Linked DNA regions of Homo sapiens: all the other regions are linked to region 3. The links come from fine-mapping of genetic effects on gene expression. A gene starts in region 3. Each other region holds a variant in brackets. All regions are shown on one strand. Distances are between the middles of the regions. Region 1 overlaps DTX4 (deltex E3 ubiquitin ligase 4). Region 2 has its middle 36 kb from the start of MPEG1. Region 3 holds the start of DTX4 (deltex E3 ubiquitin ligase 4).

Evidence for each region. PIP is the estimated chance that this variant, and not a neighbour inherited with it, causes the effect.
Region 1: its variant is fine-mapped to the expression of DTX4 in whole blood (TOPMed, PIP above 0.99).
Region 2: its variant is fine-mapped to the expression of DTX4 in prefrontal cortex (ROSMAP, PIP 0.95).

What each region holds. Positions count from the first base shown.
Region 1 is chr11:59,192,978-59,195,737 of GRCh38, reverse strand. It overlaps DTX4 (deltex E3 ubiquitin ligase 4), which reads right to left. Exons shown (of 9, transcript NM_015177.2): 7 at 369-530. Among named protein-coding and RNA genes, the nearest start is that of MPEG1, 19 kb to the left of the region's middle. The variant T/C (reference allele first, on the strand shown) is at 1,015.
Region 2 is chr11:59,247,223-59,249,982 of GRCh38, reverse strand. No RefSeq gene overlaps it. Among named protein-coding and RNA genes, the nearest start is that of MPEG1, 36 kb to the right of the region's middle. The variant TC/C (reference allele first, on the strand shown) is at 1,694.
Region 3 is chr11:59,170,599-59,173,358 of GRCh38, reverse strand. DTX4 (deltex E3 ubiquitin ligase 4) reads right to left here and starts at 1,227. Exons shown (of 9, transcript NM_015177.2): 1 at 553-1,227. The coding sequence starts at 763. It overlaps LOC124902601 (basic proline-rich protein-like), which reads left to right. Exons shown (of 2, transcript XM_047427951.1): 1 at 1-94; 2 at 629-2,760. The coding sequence ends at 1,437. RefSeq lists enhancers at 161-270, 1-541, 1,169-1,463, 1,550-2,090 and silencers at 611-660, 721-1,290.

The DNA of each region.
Region 1 (2,760 bases), 22 kb before region 3:
GGATGATTACACAGACACAAGAACGAGGAAGCTCTCTCTATACTGATGTGGAAAGATCTACAGACTACATTGTTAACTGAAAAGCGCAGGGTGCCAAACAATGTGCCTAAATGTCACTGTTTGTGAAAAAAAAAAGGGAAGGGTGGATGCGATTTTCTGTTGTGTGTGCACAAAGAATCCTGGAAGGATACATAGGAAAGTCAGAACAATAGTGTTGAGTCGGGGGATGTAGTGTCAGCGGGCAAGGCTGGGTAGATGGCGGAAAAGTGTGGGAAGGAGACTCTTCATATGTAACTTTTTACCTACAAACACATAGAACAATAAAAACCAAGGGGTGACAGAAAGGCTCACCTGAGAGAAAGGCTCACCTGAATGCCGGGGGGGATGCTGTAGATGATCCGGATGGTTTTGCAGTCTGGGTGGCCAGGCAAGGAGTGGGGGATGAGGTGGTACTCCATCTTCCCTGGAGGTTGGGTGCCTGTCTTCACCCCATAAATGGTCTTGCAGGTTGGACACTGCAAACTTCCATCCTGAGGGGCCAAGGCCAGAAGAGCCAGATTGGGAAACAGTTTTGGTAATAACTTTCCCACCCAGTCCCAAAAGGTACCAGAGATGAAGGGCCAGGGGAACAAAATGCACCCTGGTGAGTGATAGATCTTAGTTTTTCCCTCCCAGCCCAGTCACCTAGGCTATTTCTGCTTTCTCCAAAGTAATAGGAGGTAAATTCCACAACTGGTCCCATGCTCCATGCTGAGGGATATGTAAGAGAAGCCCCTGTCCCTGAGGAGGGGACCAGCTCTCTAGGGCAGGAGCCTACACAGGGAGTCATTATTCAGCCACTCAGTACCAAATGGGTGGAACAGACAGAAAGACCTGGAGAGCAGCAACTGCCCAGTTCCTGAGCATCAGAATCACCCACAGAGCTTGTTAATCACACAGATGCCTGGGCACCACATCGGGTCCACTGAGTAAGAACTGGGAAGCTGCAAAGCATAATGTTTCAGGCTGTGAATG[T/C]GAAAATCAGACTGCCTAGACGTAATTCTTAGCTCTGCCATCTGACTGCTGTGTGACCTTGGACAAATTAATTAACTTCTCTGAGTCTCAGTTTCCCTTATAGGAGAAGGATAAAAAATATCTGTCTCATCGGGTTGTTGGGAGAATTAAATGAGATAATCTATAGGAAGATCTTAGCATGTGGTGTATCTAAATGTTATTAGCATTTTTATAATTTCCATGGAAAGACTGATGCTCATACAGGTTTGGAAACTACTGCTATGAAAAGAGAAATTGGCCACTAAGAGCTGGAGTAAATGAGGATAACTTTAAGAAAATGGTCCTTGAAGAATAGCTATGAATTTGCTTAGAAGGATAGAGTGTAAGGTCTGCACAAATACCTAGAAGAGAGAATGATGCCAGTAATTATAGTGCTTTAAATCATACTATAAAGAGTTTAATATTTCTTGTTTCATTTAGGCTTTAGCTTCTGACAATGGCCTGGAAGAAATTATTAGCCCCTTTTTGTAGAGAGGAAAATCGAGGCACAGCAAGATTAAAGGACTTCCTGCTTGTCAGGGTGTGGGGTCTGTTTAAACCCCCAGCTTTGCATTGCAACTCGGTGGCTCCATTAGTGGGAAGAGGCAGTTCTGGATGCAGGGGTGTACAGGGTGACGGTTTCACTGCAGGACCTGGTGAGGTGCTGCCTGGAGGAGGGCCTGGACACCGAATCCTATTCCCAGGCTCGCAAAAAGGAGGGGCAAAGAGAAGGAAGGCGCATGGGCTGGGAGCAACGTGTGTAAAATGTGCTGCTGCGCAGCTGGGATGAAAGCTTGCCAGGACATCCCCAACTCCTCGGGAAGACAGGGATCCTCTGCTGAGCTATTTAGGGACTTCTCCAGTCTACTCGCTTAAAGCAATAGCTCGTATTCAGGGTGACTATTCTCTGAAACCAGGTTCCCACTTTCTGCTTTGGCCTTGACTTGCTTCATGACCTAGGGTGAATCACTCCTTTCTTCTTGGGCCCTTTTCTCTCATGTGTTTGATAAAATAAAAACACATGCTTCAAAGTATTAGTGCAAAAGAGAATAAAGCATAGACTCTTGAGAAACATTTTTGAAAGCCCCATGGAAATAAATGTAGAGTTACCATATTCTTCTTGAATATAGACATCAAATAGGGAACAAATGTGCTAAGAAACCCCTTTAAGCCCAAAATAACTTCTTGAAATGCAAGATCCCAATGAATCCTTTTAGCCCAGGGTTGGGAAAGTGAGCAAGTGATCCAGATTTGCATCCCCCATCAATGACTGACCACCACTATAAGCATGTCTCTCAGGGACACCAAGAAAGCACTTTGGGAACTTCAATCAAATAGGCTACATGAAGATGAAGGAAAAAATTACAGCCTTTAATACAAAGGCGATATCAATTTGAATAATAATAGCATAAGACCCCATAAAGTAGGTATAGTTTTAATCTCCATTTTCCAGATGGAAAGTCTCTCTCAGAGATTGGAAAACCTTGTCCAAGGTCATTCAGCTAATAAGCCAGGATTCAAGCTCAGGTCTCCCACCTCTCTTACCTCTACTTCTTTCCCACAGTAAGAGACGTATAGACCAGACCAGACAGACGTATAATCCAGACATACTTCTTGCTTAGTGAGAGGTTGGGAGCTATCAGGGAGATCTCAGACTCTGATGTAATCTAAGCTTGGCCTGGAGAAATAAGTACTCATGGAAATAGGGAGTAAAAGTTATCTCAGGTA
Region 2 (2,760 bases), 77 kb before region 3:
CCATAGAATAGGTCTTTCTCACCATCTGGGAAGCAACTGGGCAGCCCTCTCCAGTGAACATTCACCAACCTAACTGACCGCCTCCAGCCACAACTGCCTCTCTTCCTTGAGATCGAGCCCTGCCAACAAAATGCCACTTTCAAGATCAAGCAAGTTCAGGGTAATTATACTTTTCCCAAGTCACATCAGCTCTGGATAATTTTCAGAGCTATTTCCAGGTCTATTTTAAGGGATAACTCGATGTCGCAATGCGTGAGAGTCAATTGGATACATGATTCCCAATGACTCCATGCTTGCCGTGTTCCTGGTCTCAGAAAGCTTTTCAAAGAAAAGCTCAGGGTGGGCTCTCTCAGCAGGGGATACCATATTATTATGGCTTCCCAGAAGAGGGCCTACCCCCGCCATCACTCCAAGCAGGATCAAAGAATCAGAGTCTCTTCAAAGAACAGACAGCAAGCACTATGGGTGGAAGGCCACAGATGCCCTACAGATGTGGTTGGGCAACTATTTTCTAGGTTTTACCAGGTTGGTTTATAAGTCTATCTGAAGACTGAGAACAGATTTCGGAGAACATCTTCTCCTATTTATTCTGGTTACAGCAAAATAAATAAATGAATGTTTATGTTACTTTCAATGAGCTAAAATAGTTATTTACAAAGACAGACAAGACCTGCTTTAAGCAAAAGTATAAAATTCTACAACTTTGTCCTCTGTGCCACCACCTCCCTCTTTAAGCCTCTCTCATCCTGATTCTGGGTTCTTTGTTCTTTCCATTACCACTTGCCTGCATTCTCATGCAGCTATCTTTTCCTGTGACTGTAGGCACTAGTTAAATTCTGGCCCTACCAATGACTGGCTGTGATCCAGTGAGCAGCCAAGGCAGAAAACCACTGCCTCAGAGTATCCCTCTCTGAAAAGCACTGAAGCCTTTGCAGCAGTCTTGAAACCTGTTCGAGTTTCCTCAATCTTGAGGATTCCTTCGTTTGACATTGCCAGCTGTTGTACCTACTCTTCCATTTTCTTCTCTCCTTCCACTGCTAAACTGGCATAACTTCCGTCAGTACCTGGCCTTGTTCAAATCCCCTCTGAGCTCCATTCCGGATATCCCTATCTGAGACCAATGAGTTCCACCCCTACCATTCTGTTGAAATTGCTCTGGGAAGACCACACCTCCCTTCCTTCTTGCCAAATCAATGGCCTTCTGTTTATATTTTCTCTCTTTGAGTTCCATGCCATGTTCATTAAGCATCACTGAGCAGTGACAGATTTGAGGATCAGGATAAGGAATTTGGATGTCATCAGGCCATCAGTGAACAAAAAAACTAATGAACGCTCTTGAGCAAAAAATGACATGATTGGATCTGTGCTTTAAGGAGGTCCATTTGCAGGTTAAGGAGGAAGAATTGAATTTGAGAGAGTCTGAAGGCGAATTATGAACAATCAGTTTAAAATTGCCTGAGTCCCCCCACAAAAAAATTCTTGGAGTTGGAGATGACATGAAAAGAGGGTTCTATTGATTCTACCGATAATGTTTCAAGTAGTATTAAAGAACAATCCATTCTGAAGGTGGGAGCAAGGGAGGCAGGAATTGTAAAGCACCATAGTCTTCTAGTTTACTATCCTCACACCCTTCAGTATGCAATAAGATATATAAAAAAAAAAAAGAGGATTCTTTAGGTTTAGGGTTTTTTTT[TC/C]CCTAAAAAAAGATTTAATTACAAACTACTGAATTGGCCATAGTAATCATTTCTCCAATATCTAGCCTCAGAGAGAGACCCCAAGAATGTAGGCATGATGCCCAGAGCTGGGAACTCGAGGAGGGAGTATAATTTGTTTAGCTTCACAGTAGGAGACTCTGGCCCTGGCAGAGGAGAAGCTGATGGGGTTTTGGGTGGAGAAGGGAAATTGTAACATTTTTCTCATCTGGATGCAAGTTGAAGAGCTGCCAACATCAACAGGGTGTGGCCACCATCTTTCACAAATCCTTGAAAGAAGCTGTGGTGTGCTGTGGGTTTACACAATGCCCACTTCCTTCTGTTTCTTGTATGTCCTCCCCAAGACACACAAATAGACTTCAAGTATTTTCAAGATGGATATTTGATAAATCAAAAACAAAACACGTACATGAGGGAAATCTGGCCTTAGTCAAACAGCAAGAGGTTATTTTTCTTTTAAACTCCCTGCCCACTGATCTTTTGAAAGATAAGTGTTATCAGGTGATTTTTTAAAAAAATTGCCATCCATTTCTCAGGTCCTTATAGGGGCAGTGGTGTATGGAGGAATGAGGATATTATGAAATAAAGTGTTACAAGAGGCCCTATGCACACAATAAAAAATGTTAGTACATGTCAATCTCCTTTCTTCTTTCTTTTTGTTTCACAGAATCAGAATCTCAGGATTTTAAGGAACCCATAAGGTTAACTAATTCAGATTGTCTTTTAAATCTTAAATCCTGTCACTGTCAAGTGTACCATCTTCTGCTTACACACGTCCAGTGATGAGAAATTTAAAGCTTTCTGGGCTATCCATTCTACTTTTGAACTATACTATTGTTTTCCTAAAATTCTCTCTCTCTCTCTCTCTGTCTATCTTTGTCAGAAGGGTTCTGTAAAATATCTAGTGCTTTACAAAGGTAACTGCTATTGTCTGAAATTGTCACATATTTTGGAGCCAAAAACCAGTCTCAGATTGCATTGACTCCAGGGATATATTATTGGAACCACACCAGGAACTAGGAATAACATGGAAGCTGAGCCAATGGAA
Region 3 (2,760 bases):
GGGGAATCCCTTCTTCCTCCCCCAGTTCCCACACCCAGGACCCAGCTGCGGGGAGGCATCCCACACAGGAGACGCAGAGGCAGTGAGATCGGGGGTGAGGGGACGTGTGGCAAGCCCCAGCGTGCCTGAAGCAAAACAGGGTCAGGTCAGCCAAGGTGCCGGCCGCCACGGGATGAGGGCAGGAAGCCTTTGCGAAGGGCTGGGATTGCCTGTAGTCTGGGGCGGCCCTAGAATTTCTACATAGAAAGACTTAGGGCCACCAACTGCTGAAAAGCGGGGGCATGAAAGGGGTGGGGAGTGGATTGTTACCGACTAGGTTGAAGCTGGGTTTGCAAAACCACAACACTGATACTATTTGCATGGATGTTTAAGGGGGAGGGAGGATCCTGCGAGGATTCAGCGGAGTGAATCGCCTCCCACCACCACCTCTTGGTGACACTGCTGCACAGAAGTGCCGACTAGGTGGCCAAGGTGGGTTCACAGGGAGGGAGGTACCTTGGCAGGTTGGGAAGGTGGGAGCAGGCGGGGCGGGGTCAGGGGCGGCTGGCTCACCCGTGTCTTGGCGGAACTGGTTCATGGACTGCAGGTCGATGATGTAGGGCGCGAGACGGCTGTCCACCTGGCCCAGCACCACGCTGCCCCCCGCGCGGGGGCCGGCGCGGACCACCGCCTCGATGTGGTGGCTCACCGCTGGGCTGTAGGGACGCCAGCGGCCGTGCTCGTTCAGCCATTCCCAGACCACCACGGCCGAGGCCAGGAGCATGGCGAGCCCGGGGCTGCGGCGCTGCGCGGCCCGCCTCCCGGGCCCCGAGCGCCCGACCTCCTCCGCTTCCTCCTGCGCCGCCGCCTCCGGGCCTCGACCGCGCCCCCTGCCCCGCGCCCCGCCGCCCCGGGCAGCCTCAGCTCCGGCCCATGGGCTCCTCCCCAGCCGTGCATCCACCGGGGCCGGGACACCGGGGCCGCCTGGCTGGGACCGCGCGCCGCCGCCGCCGCCGGGGTCCGCTGCTGCTGCCGCTGCTCTGTGGGGTCGAGTCGCTTCATGCAAATGCCCGGCTCTCTGCAAACAGGCCCCCGCCTTGCAAAAGCCACTCGGCGGGCGCGCGGCCCGAGCCCCGGCGGCCGCGAGCTGGGGCTGACGGCGAGGCAAGGACCCAGCCCTCGCACCAGTTGCGCCTCGGCCTCTGCAGACGCCGGGGTGGGATCTCGCCGCACGGCCGCGCTCGGAATGGCACGCTCTGGTCCCCTCCCCTCTCTCCCTCCCTCCCCACCCCTTCGCCGCACGAATTGCAGTCCCCGCCGCTGGGAGAGCTCCCCCTGCCTGTGGCTCTGCTCAGTTCCTTCCAGAATGAACCACCCCTCCCAAGCAGGGCGCTAAGGCAAACCCGCGCCCGCGTGTGTTTCCCTGGTTCCTTGATGCAGAGAAGCGACCCGCCATGACACGGCCCCGGGACCACCACTGTCGCCCAGCCGCAACTTTGCAGCCTCCTTCCCCCAAATGTAATTTTCTCTCTCTCTCTCTTTTTTTTTCCTTAATGCAGCATGATCAGTGTCCGCAGCGCGAACTGGAGACACGCATTGTCTCGGGGCTTGCGCACGCACTGGCACACTCACAGTCGCACACACACGCGCGCGCACCCCAACTCCTTCCTTGCCCCGGCTCCTATTACCTCATCCTCTCCCGCATCCTTAGCTGTCCGTCAAGGAAGCAGAAGACACGCCCCCTGCTGCTCGGGCGAGTGCCCTGGAGCTTACCCGCCCCCTGCTGGCCTAAAGTGTCGTGTGCCGGCCAGTGGCCACTCCAACCTCTGCTAATGAGACCCAGTCCAAAGGGATGCAGCAATTTCGCTAATGATGGATTTATATTACCTACGTAGAGAGCAAATGTGGTTTTTCTGGCCAGATTCAACGTACTAGAGTCAGGAAGACGCATGTTAGATTAATTTTATCTGCATCGTTTCTGTAACTAAAATTATGAAACACTAGGAAAAACACGAGTTAGACTTATTTTGATCATCAATAGTTAATATGGAAAATAACCTTAAATAGGTAGGTTCTGACTAAAAGGGAAGACTGAAGTCAGGATTATGCATTATCCTTGTCAAAGAACACAAATTTTGTTTTGTTGAGATTGCAAACCACATAAAACAACGAATCGAGTCTTATCAAGATCCAAGTTATAGGATGCGGGAAAGTAAAAATAGATTATGTGTTAGAGAATGGGATTGTGAATCTTTTTGAAATAATCAATTTTTTCATAAATATCATATGACCCTTTTATGTTTTAGAAGAGTTGCTTCCCCCTCCCTCTCCTTGCAGCTGTCATTTCTCCCATTGTTAGAATTTTGCATCCTTCTACCTTTATCTTTCTCCCAACAGAGTTCTAAATACAAAGCAAAAGAAAAAGTGTGAGATCTGTTCTTCTTCAGGCCCCTAAAGGCACCAGGCTCAAGGAACCTCTGAGCTTTGTTCTTTCTGGTCTTCTTGCACAGCTTGGCCTCCAAAATGCCTAGTCGGCCTCTCCCTTATTTGGGGACTGTTCCTAATCCAACCTAAACAATACCACTCATTAAAATGTCGAGTTTCAGAATTAGAAGAACAAAAAGAAAACAAGGATACCTCGACTAATTATATCATAGGCCATTATTATTACCATTTTACAAATGACAGGACTTAAGGAATTTAAACTATTTGCCCTAGATTACATAGCTAGTTAGAGGGGAAACCAGTATTCAAAATTTAGTTGGGCTGTCTCAAAAGAAA